Linked DNA regions of Homo sapiens: regions 1, 3 and 4 are each reported to be linked to region 2. The links are microRNA targets in miRTarBase. Many come from high-throughput screens and were not tested one by one. Region 2 holds a microRNA gene; each other region holds the end of a gene's coding sequence.

Region 1 (5,077 bases), not on the chromosome of region 2:
ACCATGTCTAGCTTATTTTCATAATTGTTTAATGAGTTATAAGTGACTTAACATTAAAGAAAACTATTTCTTTGTTATAGGCATTGCTTTGAGTTAAAAATACCAAATTTCGGCTGGGCGCAGGGGCTCACGCCTGTAATCCCAGCACTTTGGGAGGCTGAGGCGGGAGGATCGCCTGAGGTCAGGAGTTCGAGACCAGCCTGGCCAACATGGTGAAACCCCAACTCTATTAAAAATACAAAAATTAACTGGGTGTGGTGGTGCATGCCTGTAATCCCAGCTACTCAGGAGGCGGAGACAGGAGAATGGCTTGAACCCGGGAGGCAGAGGTTGCAGTGAGCCAAGACCACACCATTGCACTCCAGCCTGGGCAACAAGAGTGAAACTCCATCTCAAAAATAAAAAAAAAAAAAAATCAAATTTCAAGAATAATGTATAATAAATTTGTTATTTCCACTTGACTAGATAATGTGATTACTTACATTTTCTATAAACAGAACCAAAAATGATAGTTGAAGGAAAATTAAACCTTTTTAAAAAGAGCCATTTTTCTGCTTTATATGGAAATAATGTAACTAAATTTTATAACTTATCTAAAAATTGGCATAGTTTTTTTATTTTCAGTTACTATTGTGAACTAATTTTCCTTTTTTCTGTTGGTTCCATAGGACAGATCTATTCAGAAATGATCCACAACTTGCTTCGACCCGTTCTGCAAAGCAAGGACTGTAATTTGGTTCGCTATAATGTCATCAATGCATTGCCCAATACAGCTGATTCACTCATTGGGAGAGCTGCACATATAGCTGTTCTTGATTCGGAAATATTTTTAGAGAAATTCTTTCTGGTTGCTGCCCTCAAATATTTCCAATAGTATAAAAGCATTGTTAGCGACTGGACAATTACCTCATTCAACAATGTTTCAAATAATGTATTATATTAAAATGTAGATGCTGATAAGTTCTAAGAAATATTTATACCTTTTTATATGGAAGATAATTTATATCATCCATGTTTAGTGCTTTTTAAACATCAACTTTACTTTCTAGGTAATGTGGCTGTGCAATATTTTTTTAATTTTATCTTTTTACTTTTCTATTACTTTTTCATATATTTTGCTACCTAAGTATTTCAGTGAAACTTTAAGCCCATACCTGTGTCTGATTGTTTATTATTGGCTTTCCACAATTCTTACATCAGACTACATTATATTAGAGACCATTATTGCTAGAATAGCATGGGATTTAAAATTTTCTAATACTGGGGGTATTATTTAGTTAATTATAAATTTTTCTTTTCACATTTTACTGTGTTTTAACTGGAAATAAAATTATGGCTGCTACAATATATTTTTTGAAATCAACTTCTGTAGTTCTAAAATACAACTTTATCATACAATCAAACCAGGTAGTTCATATAAAACAGTGTAATACAAGTTTTCTATAAAGTCATTACTGTTGCTTAAACATATTTCATGCCTATTAAAATATATTTTCTACTGGTGATTTCAACATTATTTCTCATACTGACTTTTATTACTGGAAATGTTCCTGTACATGTTGGCAGCAGATAAAGATTTTTGAATGTTTGAATGCCCTCTGCCTTGATTTGGTTGGAATTTTTGCTAAATTGGTAATGTTGCTTGAACTTTATGACTACATTTTCTTTTAACTTTTTTCATGGACTTCCTTATATGTACATAATAATTAAATGTTGAAATTTATGAAATACTTTTATGAATTTAGATAATTTTTAAATATTGTTAAAATTTATTGAACTAAAAAGTAATGTAAATAAAATAATTCATGTTAAAGATGGAACAAAATAATTAACTTTACATGTTTGGTGATACAGATGCAAATGTTTTTGATATATGGAGATGTTGAGTCTTTTGACTTTACTAAAGGTGCTGAATAGCATTAAATTCACTATTTTCCTTTTCTGTTTTACTTGTGAAAATAAAAATGCACTAAGGTTGGGTAGAAGTTCTGTTTGCACTCACTAATTGTGACAGACAGAGGTTTTTGTAAGTATTTATTGTACAATTGATGCATGTTTATTTTTAGCGTTGTTATTGCCTCTGGTGTTAATAAATGAACAAATGGCTATCTGGAGGAACAGCTACAACCCTTGTAATCCTTTGCTTATTCTCTGAATACTAGAGGTATATATATTTTATTTATAACATAGACCAGCCTAATTATATAACTTGTAGCCTTTGTATTTTTATATCTTTTGTATATATTATTATAGTTAAAATAATTTTGATTGCTATTGATAATTATTTACTTTTTAGAAAGTACTCAAAATTTTTATAAACTAATATCCCAAGTGCATTATAACTAGAAAATGTAAATATATTAATTAGCCACCACATATTTTTGCCAAGCACATTTTTTATATTCCTATATCTTGGCTCTGAGTTTGAAATGTGCATATTCAAAGTTTGGATAATTTTCAGGTTTATCAAAGGACTCAATCATATAAATAGTATTTGAGTGGAAATTGCTCTTATCATAGTTGATTGATTAGTTTTTGGTTATTTTAATACAGTTCTAAAAGCACATCTGTGTTCATGGTTTAAAATCTAACAAATTTAACTTACTTGATTTATCTGGGAAACCACCACACACTATTCACCTCCAAATTCAGATTGTGGGAGATGGGGTACAGTTATGGGGGAGAGAGGAAACAATGATCTGAAATGGTATTATTGACTCTTACTTTAGAGAATGAATCTCATTGAAGTATACCAGTAAGAGTTCTTGGTTGCAAACAACAAAAAAAATTATGATCAACCTAAACAGAAAAAGAATTTATTGGAGGAGGATCAGGTAGCTCACAGAATTGATGGAAAGGCTAGAGAGCCAGGTTTGGAAAACAAATAGAAGCCAAAGGAAAGTAGATGACCAAAAGCATAGCCAAGTTCTGATGACCTCAGAGCTAAATGACTGTATTCTTCTCTAGCCAGGATGACCCTGGAAACTGGATTTCAAGTACTTGTTTTATCACTTCAGATTCAAAGCGTAGTAGAATGTCCAACTGACCAAGTTTAAGTCTTGTGCCAGTGCTTGGGCTGTCAGGCATCAAAGACAGCAGATGTATCTGACCTCGTTAGTTTCCACAGTAGAAAATGGGACCCTTTATTCTACCAAGGTTAACCAAACATATGAAATGGGTTTGATGACAGCACCAAATATAAAAACACATCAGGTGTAATATAGTCCATCTTTTTGTCTTCCCAACATCTGCAAGCATAATTCTCTCCATATTTACACATTTAAAATGCATCTTTCTGACATAGTACTACTATCCCTCATCCAGTTTTAAGTCCAGGACCTCAGTGTGATGTTCTCTGATTCTGTAATAATCTCATCTCAATAGTGTGCAACTCATAGACAAAATTGTGACCTAACCACCACCCCTATACATAATAACAGTATAATAGGAAAGAAGCTGGGCGTGGTGGCTTATGACTGTAATCCCAGCACTTTGGGAGGCTGAGGTGAGAGGATCACTTGAGCTAGGAATTCAAGACCAGCCTGGGCAACATAGCAAGACCCCATCTCTAGAAAATAATTTAAGTGAGCCTGGTGGCATGCACCTGTAGTCCCAGCTACTTGGAAGACTGAGGTGGGAGGATCACTTGAGTCCAGGAGTTCAAGGTTGCAGTGAGTTACTGCACTTCAGCCTGGGCGACAGGGAGACCCCCCAACTCAAATATATATATACATATGAAATAAGAGAAAATTTTATAAACATGCATGAGCCAGTGAGGAAGAAAACAAAATAGAGCAGGGCTTTGCAATGTCCGTGCCAAGAATTACCTAGACTACTTTAAAAATACACATTCTAGGACCTTATTACGGACCACCTGAATCAGAATTTTCAGGATAGTGTAAAAGCAGCAGCATGTTTTATGTCCCAAATTTCTCTAATAACACGTCGCAAATACAGTACTTAGTCCTGTCAGTGGTCGTGAATCTAGATGGTTATGACTTCTCACCACTGCCAACTATTTTCTGTTTTCTTTATGTTCAAGCAGCACCTCTGCTGATCAGATTTATGTATCCAGTGGATGACAGAGGATCTGAGGTGTGGGTGGTCTTGCCTATATATGGTTGTAATAGTCTTATATGTAAATGTTACCATTCAGCATGGTATTTTTTAAAATAAAATATAAAAACATGGTATTGTGAGGAGGGATTCCAGGAGACCCCCCTGACTTCTGGTTATACTGTTCTCCCTACTCTCTTTTCTCCATGGTCATCAGGGCCAATCACTCCAGCTAGCACCATCACCACTTTCTCTAACCTTACCTAGAGGAATGAGGTCAAAATGGCTGGGTGGCAATTCCAGCTGGGCACAAAAATTGCTATACCAACAGAACCTGGACTCAGAGATGGCTAGCAAGAGTAGTGAAGGGTCTGAGATTTTATCCTACTTGCAAGGTTACAGGCTAGGTTGCTGCAGTTTCATGGATGATGACAGGATACTCCTGGACAAAAGACAAAACAGCTTTATTACAGCAAAATAGAAGCCAGAGTGTCCGCATATTTGCATCAGTTCCCGTAGCCCAATTCCCACAGTGTGATGCAGAGGGCCGGATGACGTCTGTGCACATGGGGGGTTGCATTACAGAAGAATCCAGGATCAAGAATCAAGCAGTTTTTGAGCAAACAACAAACAAGCTAGTCTCTCTCCCCCAGGGAGCAGCAGTTAAATGGTAGTAATGCTGTGATTGCCTTGACCTACTTAGGTGCCTATATGACTAACTACAGAAACTGCTTAGCATCAGGAGATGGATACGGCTTGCAGTCTGGCACACTCAGTAATAATATACAGGCATGTTCAGGGGCCTTCGGAGCTTGTCTCTTCTCTACTACAATGGAAAGCAAAATATATTTTATATCAGTAAGTCATATGCAATAGTAAGAAGTCAGACCCTTTTCTACTCTTTGATCTCTGTTATTCTGTCAACAGAAGATATATCACCAAATACCGTTGACTCATTTGGAAAATATGACAAATCCTTTAGGGCAGTATCCCAAAGTGTATTTTCTCACCTCGTTCCAAA
Region 2 (5,079 bases):
ATTTGATCTGTTTCTCTCTCTCTTTTTTTTTTTTTTGAGATGGCGTTTCGCTCTGTCACCCAGGCTGGAGTGCAGCGGCGCGATCTTGGCTCACTGCAAGCTCTGCCTCCCGGGTTCATGCCATTCTCCTGCCTCAGCGTCCCAAGTAGCTGGGACTACAGGCGCCTGCCACTATGCCTGGCTAATTTTTTGTATTTTTAGTAGAGATGGGGTTTCACCGTGTTAGCCAGGATGGTCTCAATCTCCTGACCTTGTGATCTGCCTGCCTCGGCCTCCCAAAGTGCTGGGATTACAGGCTTGAGCCACCGCGCCTGGCCTGTTCTGTTTTCTTTTATGCTTCTCATCACATTTTGACTTGCATTGAGTTATCAATGTGTGTGCCCCTTTCAGAAAGATCTTCCTGAAGCCATTTAGGCTGTGACTATTATGTCTAAGCAAGATATGTGAAGGGCTATGTGCCCCTTACAAAAAAATTGCTTGCTTTTCTGCAGTGAGCAAGAAGGGTGATGTTGTATCTAAAGGTTCTTTGTCAAAGTCCTTCCAGAATTTTTCTTGCTAGCTTAATAATCAATCAGTAGATAGAAAAGAGATATAGATAGATGTAGAAAGATGTGTCCAGCAGTGTCCCAAATAAGGTATAACTAATCTGTGATTGGATATCACTGTGCACTCTAAATTTCTTGCCTATGTGTAACAAGTAAGTCAGGATGTCCCCCCCCCACCCACCAACCTCCACACCCAAGAGTCATCTAGTTGTGTTAGAAGGTCTGCAGGTGGGCAGTGGCTCATGCCTGTAATCCCAGTGCTTTGGGAGGTCGAGGTGGGAGGATTGCTTGAGGCCAGGAGTTTGAGACTAGCCTGGGTAACATAGTGAGACCCCATCTCTATTTATTTTTAAAGGAAGATCTACAGGTGAAGGGCACATTCTTTTGTTGTCCACCTGTATTGCTGAGTGAGCTAATTCCAAACCAGCTCTGGGGCCTATGACCTCCATATTTGAGCAGAAGAATTAAAAAGTCTGTAAAATCCCTCATTGAAATTATCAGGAAATAAAGGGAAGCTAAAACCCTCTTAGTGTCTCATGGTTTTGATTTCATTGCAATCTAGAATTGTATATAGTGCAGTATCAATCATGGGAAGCTGCCCCAGTGTTGTCAGCCTCTGTGACAGTATTTTATTCTCACACTGTAGGGTAAATGCATTGAGGCAACCTTCATATTTCTCTCAATCCTGCGCAATCTGCAGTAACCAGCTTTCTTTGATTACCTAGATAGGCTCAGGGGCCTCTCCCTCTGCATTATCTACTAGATTCTCACTTTAACACATTATATACAGTTGTTTAAGTCTGCTACTCCAACTGTTAACTGTCTAACATCTTTTCTTATGCTGGGCTCCTGGATAGAATCTAGCACTTACTGAGAGTGTGATGAGTGAGTGAATTAGTTGACATTGGGTTGCCTTATTGATATGCCCGTCAGGCCAAGTTCCTTGACTTACTAAGGCCAGTGTATTATTTTCCATTACATTTAGTTCAGTGATATTTTAAAAATGTGCATAATACTAGCACATATTCAAATGCCAATTCACATGAGGGAATAATTTCCCAACAGTGTTATCTAGCTTCTTCTCAAGTTCCCTGGGTGGAGGTCAGTCTTTGTAGTTGATGTTGGGTTCCTGACCCAAACACAGCTTGTGCCAGTTATGGAAAGGAAAAAAAAAAAGGGCAGTTTTCCATGGTTTGGATAAAGAGGTGACCGTGGGAACATGTACAGCTCTGTCTGTAGTTCTGGTAAAGTCACTGAAAACGTAACCCAGCCCGGCTCTCTTTTGTACCCACAAGGAAATGGGGATAGACAAGGCCTGTCAAACAAGAGGAAATGGAGCAAAAGGAAATAGACCCATTCTGCAAAGCCATATGGCATATGCAGCAGAGGGAAGTGTTGGTCCCATTCAGGAGGGAAAATATCTCTTTAGCTATTTATTAGGAAACATTGAAGTAATCTTAAAAACTGTGCTATATAAAGAAAAGATATGAACCCCATCTATTCAATGGAAAAATCCAAATGCAGATAAAGGCTTATGAACAGAAATGAGTCATTATAGCACTGCTGATAATTGCCAAAAAATATGTAACAGCTGGGCGTGGTGGCTCACACTTGTAATCCTAGCACTTTGGGAGGCCAAGGCGGGCAGATCACCTGAGGTCGGGAATTCGAGACCAGCCTGACCAACATGGAGAAACCCTGTCTCTACTAAAACTACAAAATTAGCCAGGTGTGGTGGTGCATGCCTGTAATTCCAGCTACTCAGGAGGCTGAGGCAGGAGAATCCCTTGAACCCCGGAGGCAGAGGTTGCATTGAGCCGAGATTGCGCCATTGCACTCCAGCCTGGGCAACAAGAGCGAAACTTTGTCTTAAAAAAAAAAAAAAAAAAATATATATATATATATATATATATATATATATGAAACAAGCAACTGTATGATTATGAAATAGTATGTCTCACTGATTGTTATATAACTCAAAATTATTTTACGAGGAGATTGTAATCACGTGGGAAAATGCTAGCACTAGTGATAATGCTAGTGATTCAACTCCTGTTGAATCACTGCATTATTTTAAGATAGTGGTTCTCAAACTCCAGCATTCAAAGAGTGTAAGACAGAAAGCTGTATTGCTGGCCTAATTCTGTAAAGAAGAACACATTTATGAGCAAAAATGTGAAAGCAAATGTGCTAAAAGGTTTTTCTAGATAATGCTATGACTAGTGATTTTAATTTTCGTTTTTGTATTTTTAAAACTTCTACAACATATATGTGTTATTCCAAAAATCAAAAAGAAACATTAAAAAAATCCATGTAATCAATATCAAACACAAAACTTTAACTTTGCTCCCAGCAACAAATACATAAAATATTTAGGGGCATATTTTTATATCAAGGTGATTAAAGCACTGACCATGGGAATTTTATGACTATCCTATGGGAGGTTCAGCCATGGTGCTTAAGATACCCCTAGTGTCCTTCTCATCTCCTTTACACCAGCTCTGCTTGCAATCCTGCTGAGTCCTAAAATCCCCATGAGTAGGGGTGACTGTGAGCCATGGACGTGCTTAGCAAGACCAATTGGATTCCTTCACCTAGGAGTTTAAACTAGAGAACAGTGGGGAAGTGAGAAGATACACAAAGAGATGCCAGGTTCAAGGGGCAGCCACAGTAACTTTGACAGAATGCAGTGATCCCCAAAGAAGTGACTCTCTGGTGTCTACACTCCTGTGAATTCCCCTTTCATGCTGAGGCTGAGCATGGCCATAGGACTTCGTTTTGCCAGTGTGCCAATGCCTATCAAATATCTACCTGCCATGTTTGTCATAGGACAGGCAGATATGTGATAGGCATTGGCATATTGGGGTTGGCCCTCTTGGAAACCTGAAACCACCATGCCCTAAGAAGCCTGAGATGAACAACTTCATGGAGAGGGGCCCAGCCAGGCCAGGTTTATCTCAGTCGAACCCAGAGCAGACCTGTAGGAGAATCAACCAGCCAACACATTGCATCATGAGGACGGGAAAAATCATTGTCATTTTCAGCCACTAAGTTTTAGCAGTGTTTTGTTACCAGCAATGGATAACTGAGGCAGTCCCAATAGGAACTTTGGTTGAATCCCTGTATTATTTTAAGATAGTGGTTCTCAAACTCCAGCATTCAAAGAGCTGGGTCAAAATTCAAGTGTCTTTAGGGGAGAGACATTGTTGGCCTCATTTGCCTTTATATCCCAGTTCCTGGAATGGTGTTTATCACATACCTAGACCTGAAGAAATATTTGTAAATAAATGAACAAATGGATCTTGGGAGTTTGTTTAAAATATGCCCACCTCTGGAGATTTCTAATTTGGTAGGTCTAATTTGGTAGGGCGAGGTCCAGGAAACTGCATCTGAGTGATGCTGAGACAGGTGGCTTGCAGACCACATTTTTATCATCAGGGCCTCAAATTATCCTTGCAACCAAAAGAGGCAATTGACCAATCTTCCACCTGGCCGTGCATCAGAATTACCTGAGGAGCTTTTTAACGATATTCCTTCCAGATTCTCACCCCTGACCTACCAAATCTGAAAACCTCTGGAGGGGGAGACTCACACTCTACATTATTAAGAAGCTCCTGGGTGCAGCTGGTGCAGCTGGTCCACAGATTGGAGGGCATTTTTGCTGGCCTAACCAACACAAGTCTCCAAAAGCCATCTGGCAGCCAAACACACTTTTCTCACTCCTGAGAAGAACACACACCTACTCAGTTAAACATTATCACACTAATCTTTAAAGCTTTTTAAAAGACAGCTTTCATTTTTACGTCAAGAAATGTTTGTTAGGGACTCCTAAATCTCAGTGTCTCATCTGTCAAACAAAATTTGGTAACACCTGCTTCCTGAATGCCATGAAGACTACATGAGGTAAGGTGTGTGACCACACATTGAAACCGGAAACACCAAGCACAGGATTTTTAAGACTTTAATCATAAGTATGACATAAAGGAGATTAAAATTGTTTATCTATTTTTAGGTAATTATTCAGGGTTCTTTAGGAGGTACCTTGTTCCTCCTTAATCAGGGAGAGACAGGCCTTTGGGACCTCCTACACAAAATGTTTCAGAGAAGGGAAACCGTGGACACATTTCTTATTCCTGCACATGGTGTTTAAAGCACTGTGTGCTCTGAACCCTGCATTACCTTGTTCTTTCCTTCCCCTGGTCCTTTTCCCTCCCTCCTCCTGCCCCTAAGTGTCAGCCCTTCCAAAACACTAATGCAGTAGGCTGGTTCACATCTTTGACTAGCCCTGGCTCAAGCTGTGTATTATATCTGAAATGTTCTTAATTCATTAATTATTATTGAAACAGGGTCTCACTCTGTTGCCCAGACTGGGGTGCAGTGGCACAAACACGGCTCACTGCAGCCTCAACCTCCTGGGTCTAAGCAATTCTCCCACCTCAGACTCCTGAGTAGCTGGGACTACAGGTATGTGTACCACATCTGGCTAATTTATCTTAAATTTCTTTTTTTTTTAGTAGAGACAAAGTCCTGCTGT
Region 3 (5,077 bases), not on the chromosome of region 2:
CCCTAGTAGCTGGGACTACAGGTGCCCGCCACCACACCTGGCTAATTTTTTTTCTATTTTTTTTTAGTAGAGACGGGGTTTCACCGTGTTAGCCAGGATGGTCTCGATCTCCTGACCTCGTGATCTGCCTGCCTCGGCCTACCAAAGTGCTGGGATTACAGGCGTGAGCCACCATGCCCAGCCGCATGGTCCTCTTTTAATTATTTATTTAGCTACTTAATTAGGTTTTTAAAAAAATCATATAATAGGCTGAGTGCAGTGGCTCACACCTGTAATCCCAGCACTTTGGGAGGCCAAGGCAGGAGAATTACTTGAGGCCAAGGGTTCAAGACTGACCTAAGCTACATAGGGAGACCCTTGTCTCTACTTTAAAAAAAAAAATCACGTAATAAACACCTGAAAAAGCAGAATCTAAGACAAAAGCTAAGCTTTGTCCTCTAACCATAGGGCCCTGTCCCTCTCTCATCCTCTACCTCTCCCCATTTGAAGGAATCATCATTCAGGAATCCCAGGTTCTCCATTTCCTGTTGTCTTAGTCTTCCTAAAAGCAGAACGCAAGATGGAGATTCTTATGCAAGTGATATGAAGGGGAGTTGTCTCAGGAGGAGAGTGAGGAAAACAGGTGGGGCAGGAAAAAAAGCTAAGCAAGGATGACTTGCCTGAAATCATCTGGAGCTCTAGCCCGACCCCATGGGAGCTCTGGAACACTTGTTGCGCCAAAGTGTTGATCCCACCTTGAAGCAAAGAGCTAGCTGTGTGTACGCCTGAGCCAGTCTGTCATGGGTGGACATTTGGGATGATGGTAAAAGAAAAGACAGGTGCACAGCCTCCTGGGTGAGGCAACCCCCATTTGGCCAAGAGCAATTCTTTAGAGAGGGATGTAGCCCTGAACATTGGCAGCCAATACTTAACAGCCACTGGGATCTGTGCATTCAGCCAGGAAGCGGGGTCTGGATATGTCCACTATGGCTTGCTTCTCTCTTTATATAGTTTCATCAAAATTTGTATATCTTCTATAAAAGTATGCATACATTTTTTTTCAGGTGTTTGGATCTTTCTAGAAGGGAAATCATACTAAATTTTGTTTTGACTGTTGTATAATATCTCAGTATGTGAATGTACCATACCTTTTTCACCCATTCTCCCACTGATGGTATTCTGAGTTATTTTTAGGTTTTTACTATTGTGAACAATGTTGCTGTGAACATTCTTGCCTATGTCTCCTGCTGTACAATTGCAAGAATTTCTTGAGGCCATGCCTAAGGTGGAATAGCTGGATCATAAGGTGTAAACTTGAGAAGATGTCAAACTGTTTTGTAAAGTAGTTTTACTAATTCAGCTGCCCACCAATAAGGTATGAGACTCTGCCATTCACATCCTCTCCAACTTTTTGATTTTTGTAAATTGAATGAGTATAAAATGGCATCTCATTGCAGTCTTGATTTGTGTGTCCTCAATCACTAATCATCCTTTCATATGTTGATCAGATATATCTGCTTCTTCTTTTTTTTTTTTTTTTTTTTTTTGGAGACAGGGTCTTACTCTGTCACCAAGGCTGAAGTGCAGTGGTTTGATCATAATTCACTACAGCCTCAAACTCCTGGGCTCAAGCAATCCTCCCACCTCAGCCTCCCAAGTAGCTGGGACTACAGGTGCACACCACCACACCCAGATAATCTTTTTCCTTTTCTTATAGAGACATTGGGGGCGGGGTCTTACTATGTTGCTGAAGCTGGTCTCAAACTCCTGGGCTCAAGTGATCCTTCCACCTCAGCTTCCTGAGTAGCTGAAACTATAGGTGCTTGCCACCACACTCAGCTAATTTTTTATTTTTATTTTGTTTTTATTTTTGTTGAAACAATGTCTCACTTTGTTGCCCAGGTTGGTCTCTAACTCCTGGGCTCAGGCAATCTTCCCACCTCGGCCTCCCAGAGTGTTGGGATTATAGGGATGTGCCACCATGCACGGCCTGTGCTTCCTCTTATGTGAAATGCTTCGTTATACCTTTGGTGCATTTTTCTATTGGGTTATCTGTGCTTTCTTTATTGATTTGTTGAAGTTCTTCATACATTCTTTGTCTGTTGTTTGTATTAGAAATATGGTGAACATCCTCTCCTGGCCTTTAACTTGTTTTCTCCGTTTCTATATCTTTTAATGAACAAAAGCTCTAATTTCATTATAGTATCTGGCATTTATGTCTCGTTTAAGCAGTCTTTCCCTTGGCCGGGTGTGGTGGCTCACATCTGTAATCCCAGCACTTTGGGAGGCCAAGGTTGGAGGATTGCTTGAGGCCAGGAGTTCAAGACCAGCCTGGGCAACATAGCAAGGCCCCATCTCTCTATAGAAAGAAATAATAATAAAATTTTAAAATAAATCTTTCCCTTAAGGAATCTGAAGGATAATCTGAGTCTGAGGGGAGTGATCACAATTAGGCCCAGGTCAGAGGCCAGTCACAGAGGCAAGCTTGTTTATGCTTACCGAGGCACAGCATAACTGTCTGAGGCAGTCCTGACCAGCCAGCACAAGCGGCCAGCTGGCTGACTGGCAGGTGTGCTCTGGCTATAGAACTGGATATATCATGCTATTAGAGCTGGGTGCTATTAAAAAGTCTAATCATAGACTTTAATTAACTTTCCTTGCTCTGACGCCCGCTCACTAAGCAACCTTCTGATTATAATTTGGCTTCCCATGTATCTTGCCTACAGGGAGAGAATGTACTGCTCAGGCCGACGTGAGGATCCAATCCACTCACCGGTTACATGCCACGATGTAAATTAATAAATTCGCATTCTGATTTTATCATCTGCCTCATCTGAGGTCTGTAGGCGTGAGTCAGCATCCCCTAGTTTAATCAACATGGACACTGAGACTATCAAGCTTTTGAGCTGAAAAGCTAAGAATTAGACCCAGGACCAGAGTGAAATCACCAAGGTAACATTGCCCTGGAGGCCCCTTGGCCTGATGAAGGAGGACTTCTTACATGTCATGCGATACAGACAGGGATTAAAGTCGACTTCTGACATTATAAAGAGTTGCATATTCAAAACTATAGCTTGGTTCCATTCAGGTGAAGGCAAAGAATAGGAGATGATCATGAAACTCACATTGAATATTTATTGGCTTATAAGCACACACCAGATGCTGTACAAATCCTAGGCAGGAGGTTAAGATTTACAGACATGTTTGGTAAAAGCAAAAAAACAAAAACAAAACAACAACAAAAGGACAGATGGTACGTGCTGAGGTGAAATGAAACAAGAGGCAGCTGGTTGATGAATTCTTGCTCTACTTAGGAACTTGTGGTCCAGGATACAAAATAGACAGACACACACACACAAACACACACACACACACACACACACACACACACACACACACAAACCAGGACAAGGAAACACAGGATACACCACAGCACAAATGGGAATGTGCCAGGGCAGTGAGATTATCCAGGCCAGATGAGTGATTTAGGACCTGTAAGATGAGGCCTAGATCTTTGAAGTGAGTTCAAAAGGCAAAGAGGAGGTAAGCCCATTAGGACAGATGGGGATAATTTCACCATCCTGCAATTTAGATGGTCACTTCACCCAGCCTTCCTGGGCACAGTACCTACAGTGACACAGATCCCCTCCCGCCATCCTGGTCACACTGAATAACAAAGGGAAGAGAGGAGTAAGAACTGTAGTATCTAGAAATTCTCAGCACAGTGAAGGAAAGTGATCTTCTACTTTGTATTCAGGCCTAAAAAAGGAGGGGACGGGCCCGGCACAGTGGCTCACACCTGTAATCCCAGCACTCTGGGAGGCCAAGGAGGGCAGATCACCTGAGGTTGGGAGTTTGAGACCAGCCTGACCAACATGGAGAAACCCTGTCTCTACTAAAAACACAAAATTAGCCAGGCATGGTGGCATGCGCCTATAAACCAAGCTACTCAAGAGGCTGAGGCAGGAGAATTGCTTGAACCCAGGAGGCAGAGGTTGTGGTGAGCCAAGATCGAGCCATCACACTCCAGCCTGGGCAACAAGAGCAAAACTCTGTCTCAAAAAAAAAAAAACAGGAGAGGAGGGAGGGAGAGACCTTCACTGATATCCCTACAAGATTTGCTGCTCAAAGGAAAATATTTTCCAGGAAGACTGCGAGAAATTAAAGGAAATTCTACATCATCTTTGAGACCCACCTAAAGACAAGTGGTGTCTCCCACAGTGCCACCAGAGCAAGGTCACTGGCTTGGCTAGATGTGGATGAGGGTAGAGAATCATCTCAGATGTTCTTTGGTTCTAAAAATGAGGTAGAGAGAGACATGCCACCCAGGAAGGGGTGATGCTGAGTGCAGCCGCCCAGCCAGCAGGGTGGAAGGAGAAACAGACAAAAGGCTCATCAAAAACAGCAGGACCAAAATTGAGCAGGCTGGCAGAACCAGTTCTTGCAGGGACACTGCCAGGACACACGACTCCAGGGAGCTGGCTGGAGAGGGGCAGGCCTGTGTGCTCCACAAACCCAGAGGGCTCTGACTCACACAGGTAGGAAAGAGCTCCTTTAACAATGGCCTCAGTGCGTGCACGTGTGGGTACAAATAAATGTAGACAGAGCAGAGCCATCGCCTAGTAGAGGTTGTCCCGCACATGCTCCATGATGGTCTTCAGCCCCAGCCACGTCTCCTCTGCAGTGGGGATGATCTGGTTAGCTGGCAGGAGGAAGCCATAGGTCCCGGTATCTCTCAACTCAAATGTGAATGCAAATTTGATGCCGTTGTCATATGCCCAGTCGATGCTGCTCCCGCTAGCTGGATCTGTAAGTCGGAGGACAAAACACTCTTGAAGCCCAGTTCCCTCCTGGGTTAGATGGGAAGGGGCCAAGAGCTCTGCCTGCCTGGGGTTCCTTAAGGAATCCAGAGTTTGCTCCTCAAGTCATCAGTCCTATGACAAAATCATCAGCCTGATCCCTATGTCTCAGGACATCCTGCATTGGCCTGAGGTGCACACTGGTCTCAAATCAAGAGATCTGAAACCCCTACTCCCACCTTATTACTAACGCTGTGTCCGTCCTGTAAGTCCCTCAAAACCAATCTCTATAGAGAGTA
Region 4 (5,077 bases), not on the chromosome of region 2:
GTGGGTATGAGAAGGAAAATATATCACGAATTGACATACCTTCTAATATTATAACAAAATGCAAATTCCTCATTAGTTATTTGGAAATGGTTTCATAGATTACAGATAGTTATATTAACATAAAATTTTAATTAATATTCTTTAATAGAATATCATAGAAATATTTAAAACTTTTAACTGCCAAATAACTTGAAGATGTATAAAACTCCCTCCAATAAGATCCTTTATCTAGGCCAGACATGGTGGCTTACACCTGTAATCTCAGCACTTTTGGGAGGCCAAGGCAGTGGGATCACTTGAGGCCAGGAGTTCAAGACCAGCCTGGGCAACATAGCGACACCTCATCTCTACAAAAAATATGAAAAATTAGCTGGGCATGGTGGTGTGCGCCTGTAGTCCCAGCTACTCAGGAGGCTAAGGTGGGAGGATCGTTTGAACACGAAAGGTCAAGGCTGCAGTGAGCCGTGATCATGCTGCTGCACTACAGCCTGGGCAACAGAGTGAGACCCTGCCTCAAAAAACTAATAATAATAAATAAATCCTTTGTTTTTCAGCACAATTGATAATAACGTTTAAAGTCCTTTTGGTGAATAATTTAAACAAATTAAATACAAATCTGATTGGTTTTCTACTTGTTTATTTTTTTAATGTAGTTAATAACTGGAAGTATTTTATTTTGCAGGTGATCACTGTGTTCAGTGTTGTTGGAATGGATTCAGACTGGCTAATGGGGGAAAGGGGAAACCAGAAGGGCAAGGTGCCAATTACCTACTTAGAACTGCTCAATTAAGTAGGTGGACTATGGAAAGGTTGCCCATCATGACTTTGTATTTATATACAATTAACTCTAAATAAAGCAGGTTAAGTATCTTCCATGTTAATGTGTTAAGAGACTGAAAATACCAGCCATCAGAAACTGGCCTTTCTGCCAATAAAGTTGCATGGTAAATATTTCATTACAGAATTTATGTTAGAGCTTTCATGCCAAGAATGTTTTCTTACAAAATTCTCTTTTTATTGAGGTTTCACTAATAAGCAGCTTCTACTTTTGAGCCTCAACTTAAAGCAGAACTGTTTTCTACTGGATTTTTCATTAACAGCAAGCTTTTTCTTTTATGTAAAATAAATCTATTGTGAATTGATATCAGCGACTCATTTATTAGGTATAAATAATAGCCAAAGAATAAAATTAAAATTTATTTTAAACTTTCGGTCTTAAAAAGAGCTGTAGGATATAAACCTCTTTTGTGAAAAGTAGAATTTTCTGAATGCTTTCATAGACAAAAACGCATTTAAACTATGTTTACCTGGTTTTCCAACAGAAATCAAATGATTTTAATATTATGTTTTGATGGGTTATTTTCAGAGTTGTTTGGTTTTTTAAACACTACTGAATGGTTTCTTTTAAATTTAAGAACAACTAGTTCTTGAAAAGCAATACCGTATTTCTCTGATAAATTTGTAGTTAAGGTTCTAGAAAATCTAGGACAAATTTACTTCATTAAACATAAAGTTTTTAAGATTATTCAGTTGGCACAATTTAATGCATAATTGGGATTGGATCCATTTACTGTACTGTGGTACAGTAAAGAGAATGTGTTCTTATTGAACAGCAGATTTGTATACAAATACGGAATAATGCAACTACATTATAAATTGTATACGAACAAAATAAATTGGGTCACTCTGAGCTTACTATTAAAACATTGAAAATTTATTAATGAACACAGGCTATCTTGATGAGGATCTCTGCTTATGAAACACATACTAATGAAATTATTAGTGACACATTGGAAGCTAGAAAATTGCTGTTGGGGCCATTGCTATAAATCATTGTTTCCATGTTAAGACTTCTGTTCTAATTCATTCATTCAACAAACATTTGTTGAGGGCCAGATACTGTGCTGGTCAACTGGGGATACTGTCCTGAACAATATGCACACAGTTCTTGCCCCTGCAGAGCTTAAAGACCATTAAAGGATACAGAAAATTAAGCAATTATCCTATAGTAGGATTCGTGGTGTGATGGGGAAAATACAAGGTACTGTATTTGGGAGTCATGTAACTCCAGTTTTGGGAGTGAGAGAGGGTCTGGGGAAGAACTGTTCCAGATAAAAAGATGTGTAACCAAGATAGCATAGCACATTCTGACAACTAAAGCAATTTACTCTAACTTAAGCATGAAGTACAAAAGTATAGTTCATTTATTGAGGGAATGTTAAGCTATTAAAATGATACTTTTTGGTACTTTTAAAAAAATGAATACTTAAACACCGTTTTAAAATTTTGTGTTAAGAGCTCCTAATAAGAACTTGGTAAACATGTTGACAATTTAACTCACAGTCTAAACTTTAAAAGTAGTAGTTACCCTTTTATTTCTGTGCCATGAGACAAATTCTTCTGCAGTTTTATAGTTGTACAAGATGTTTTGACTCACTCTCAATTGCCATATTCTTAAAGAAACCCTGAAAAGCTGCTCAAGCTGGTCAGTTTTCTGTAAAACCAAGTAAATGAAATTTTCTCTCCCCTCAGAAAGGAAGTTCTACAGCCTAGAGTACCATCTATTGTGTTTTATAAGTCCAGATTTAGGCTTTGAAAGATCATACCAAAACTTCAGATCGACTTAAACAGCAACTATGAATTAGGTTTATGGGAAATGTAGTAATACAGGGGAAAGAATATCGGTAATGGAGTGAAATGGTCCTGGGTTCAAATCCAGTCTTCCTCACATATTGTGCTCTTTAAGCTTCAAATGAGATGTATAACTGCCTTTTCCTTACCAGTAAAATGAGGACAATAATTATGACACCATAGGGTGGTTGTGAGGATTAGCAAATGTTATCTTGTATTTCAGGTGCCTTTCAGGGAAAGGCTTGGCACATAGTAAACACATCCTGTAAATATCAGTTTCCCCTTGTTAGCCCCTGTAGCATCCTGACCTACCAAGTCTATAGGCCTTGCATATCACTGTGCACCAGAGATACCTCTTTTACATCTGGGCTCTGTTTTCTCTCTATCAATCCTATCCTCCACCCTCTTTAAATCAGACCCCAGGTTTAACCTTCCCACAGTCAGTATAAATCATTTTTCAGAACTTTCAGCTTTCCATCAAGTGAAAGTTGATTTTAGTTACCCAGTAATGTACAGAAACCTTCAATAATGTTAAGCTTCAAAGGCTTCTGGTACGTTTGTCTACCACAGAACCACCACAATATATATGCTTGTTCTTAGGTTTATTGCTTTTTATTTTAATGGGGTTTGGTTGTTTGGGTTTTATTTTGGTTTTGGCTTATTTTAAAGTCAAGTTTAGTTTTTACTCAGGTAAAGGCCTGAAGTTTCTTGGGCGTGGAAGAAAAAGCTTGGGAAGCCTATTAATTCATGGTGCAGTTCAGAATTGTTTAAATAAGCTCTGTGCCACTGAGCTTAATCTGAAAGTATAGTGACATGTGAAGGATGCACATATGAATGAAAAACTAAAATAATTGTAGGCTCTTCTATAAATGAAAAAAAAAGTGATTGGATTGTGTCTACCTTTTTCCTCAAAGTAATCTAACCTAAACGGTCATGGTGTTAAAACTTTTTATGGTGCTAATCAGAAAAATTGATGTTGCAAGAAATGAGGTCTCAAAAATGGGAATGTGCCTCCTCACTCTGCGTCACATGGGAAATAAATCCTGAGGCCAGGATCACCAGTGGGGTAGAGTCATCTTCATAGTCTCCTGTTATCCTCCCCCTGAACAAAGAACAAAGTGAGACTGGGAAGCTAGTGTTGGGGAAACATTTCTGGGATAAACTGTGGAGTGGAGAAGACAATGGAGGGCAAGGCAAAAACCCACAGACTTGTTTACCCATAGAGGCCCCACTCACCTCCATGCTGACAGAATTCCAGAAAAATTCCTTCCCTATCTCCCAAACACCTGAAATTCTGAAATATTGCCCTACTATTTAGCACTTTAAGCTTCAGTGAGGTGCTGTAATGGAGAGATAGCTTCATAGTTTAGCCTATAGCCAACTTTGCCTCAAGACCTCCAGATAAGATGAAGTGGCTTTTACCTCATGTGAGTCTCAAACGCTGGAGAGAGAGTTCCACAACCACCCCTGCCCTTTCTCCCATATTACGCTCATTAGAAAGTCTACTCAGGGCTGGGTGCCGTGGCTCATGCCTGTAATCCCAGCACTTTGGAGGCTGAGGCGGGTGGATCATCTGAGGTCAGGAGTTCGAGACCAGCCTGGCCAACATGGGGAAACCCTGTCTCTACTGAAAATATAAAAATTAGCCGGGCATGGTGGCGTGCACCTGTAATTCCAGCTACTCGGGAGGCTGAGGCAGGAGAATCACTTGAACCCCAGAGGCAGAGGCTACAGTGAGCCAAGATTGCACCACTGCACTCCAACCTGGGTGATAGAATAAGACTCTTGTCTCAAGGAAAGAAAAAATGTCTACTCAGTAGAGCAGTGATTGGCAAAGTGTGAGACCCCAGACCGGCAATATTGGCATCTCCTGGAGACTTGTTTAAAATGCTGATTACTATTTTCAAGAACTTTCTACCTTCATTTTTACTTATTTTTTGTTTTCAAGGGCTCATGGAATCAGTCTTCCATGTGACAGCTTTTTAAATATTTTAAGACAAAAACTGAGTCTTCTAATCTTAATTGTGTTCTAGCAGTAGTCATTGTAATTATAGTTATTTTTATAATTTATTTGTTTAGTGTATATCTGTCACTCTAGAATGTAGGCTCCCTGAGATAAAAACTATAATTCTTTTGATGGCAGTTACATTCCCAACTCTTAGCACAAGATCTAGGACATAGTATGAACTCAATAAATTTTTGTTGAATGAAAGAAAAATGCAAATTTATAAGCCTTTTCAGAGACCTACTGAATCAAACTCTGAGAGTGGAGCCCAGCAATCTGTTGTAAAAGCTGTTTGAGTAATACTGTTGCACTCTAAGCTTGAGAACCACTGCAATAGAACTAAGAGAACATTCATTTCACCTTCAGGCCTATTCTCTGACATCACTTGAAAAATCCTCTCTGCCTTCTGTAACCCTTAACCAACAACAGTGCCCTGTCCAT

Evidence for each region. The annotated mature microRNA hsa-miR-3927-3p reads CAGGUAGAUAUUUGAUAGGCAU and lies in region 2 at 3,338-3,359, opposite strand. An mRNA with a match to its seed (bases 2 to 7 or 8) in the 3' UTR can be bound and repressed. Matches are read on the target gene's strand: a 7mer-m8 pairs with bases 2 to 8, a 7mer-A1 pairs with bases 2 to 7 and ends in A, and an 8mer does both.
Region 1: the mRNA of FAM135A is a reported target of hsa-miR-3927-3p. Seed matches in the 3' UTR shown: 7mer-A1 at 1,119-1,125.
Region 3: miRTarBase lists CPA4 as a target of hsa-miR-3927-3p. Seed matches in the 3' UTR shown: 7mer-m8 at 4,284-4,290.
Region 4: the mRNA of SH3GLB1 is a reported target of hsa-miR-3927-3p. Seed matches in the 3' UTR shown: 7mer-m8 at 3,527-3,533 and 7mer-m8 at 4,545-4,551.

Annotation. Positions count from the first base shown.
Region 1 is chr6:70,559,048-70,564,124 of GRCh38, forward strand. It overlaps FAM135A (family with sequence similarity 135 member A), which reads left to right. Exons shown (of 22, transcript NM_001162529.3): 22 at 669-2,127. The coding sequence ends at 874. Among named protein-coding and RNA genes, the nearest start is that of SDHAF4, 5.3 kb to the right of the region's middle.
Region 2 is chr9:109,508,143-109,513,221 of GRCh38, forward strand. It overlaps MIR3927 (microRNA 3927), which reads right to left and starts at 3,403; the gene lies at 3,333-3,403. It also overlaps a transcript of PTPN3 not described here.
Region 3 is chr7:130,322,198-130,327,274 of GRCh38, reverse strand. It overlaps CPA4 (carboxypeptidase A4), which reads right to left. Exons shown (of 11, transcript NM_016352.4): 11 at 3,095-4,786. The coding sequence ends at 4,599. The region is part of intron 1 of LOC105375503 (a long non-coding RNA gene); the gene reads left to right. Among named protein-coding and RNA genes, the nearest start is that of CPA5, 20 kb to the left of the region's middle.
Region 4 is chr1:86,742,446-86,747,522 of GRCh38, forward strand. SH3GLB1 (SH3 domain containing GRB2 like, endophilin B1) reads left to right here. Exons shown (of 9, transcript NM_016009.5): 9 at 683-5,077. The coding sequence ends at 790. Among named protein-coding and RNA genes, the nearest start is that of SH3GLB1, 40 kb to the left of the region's middle.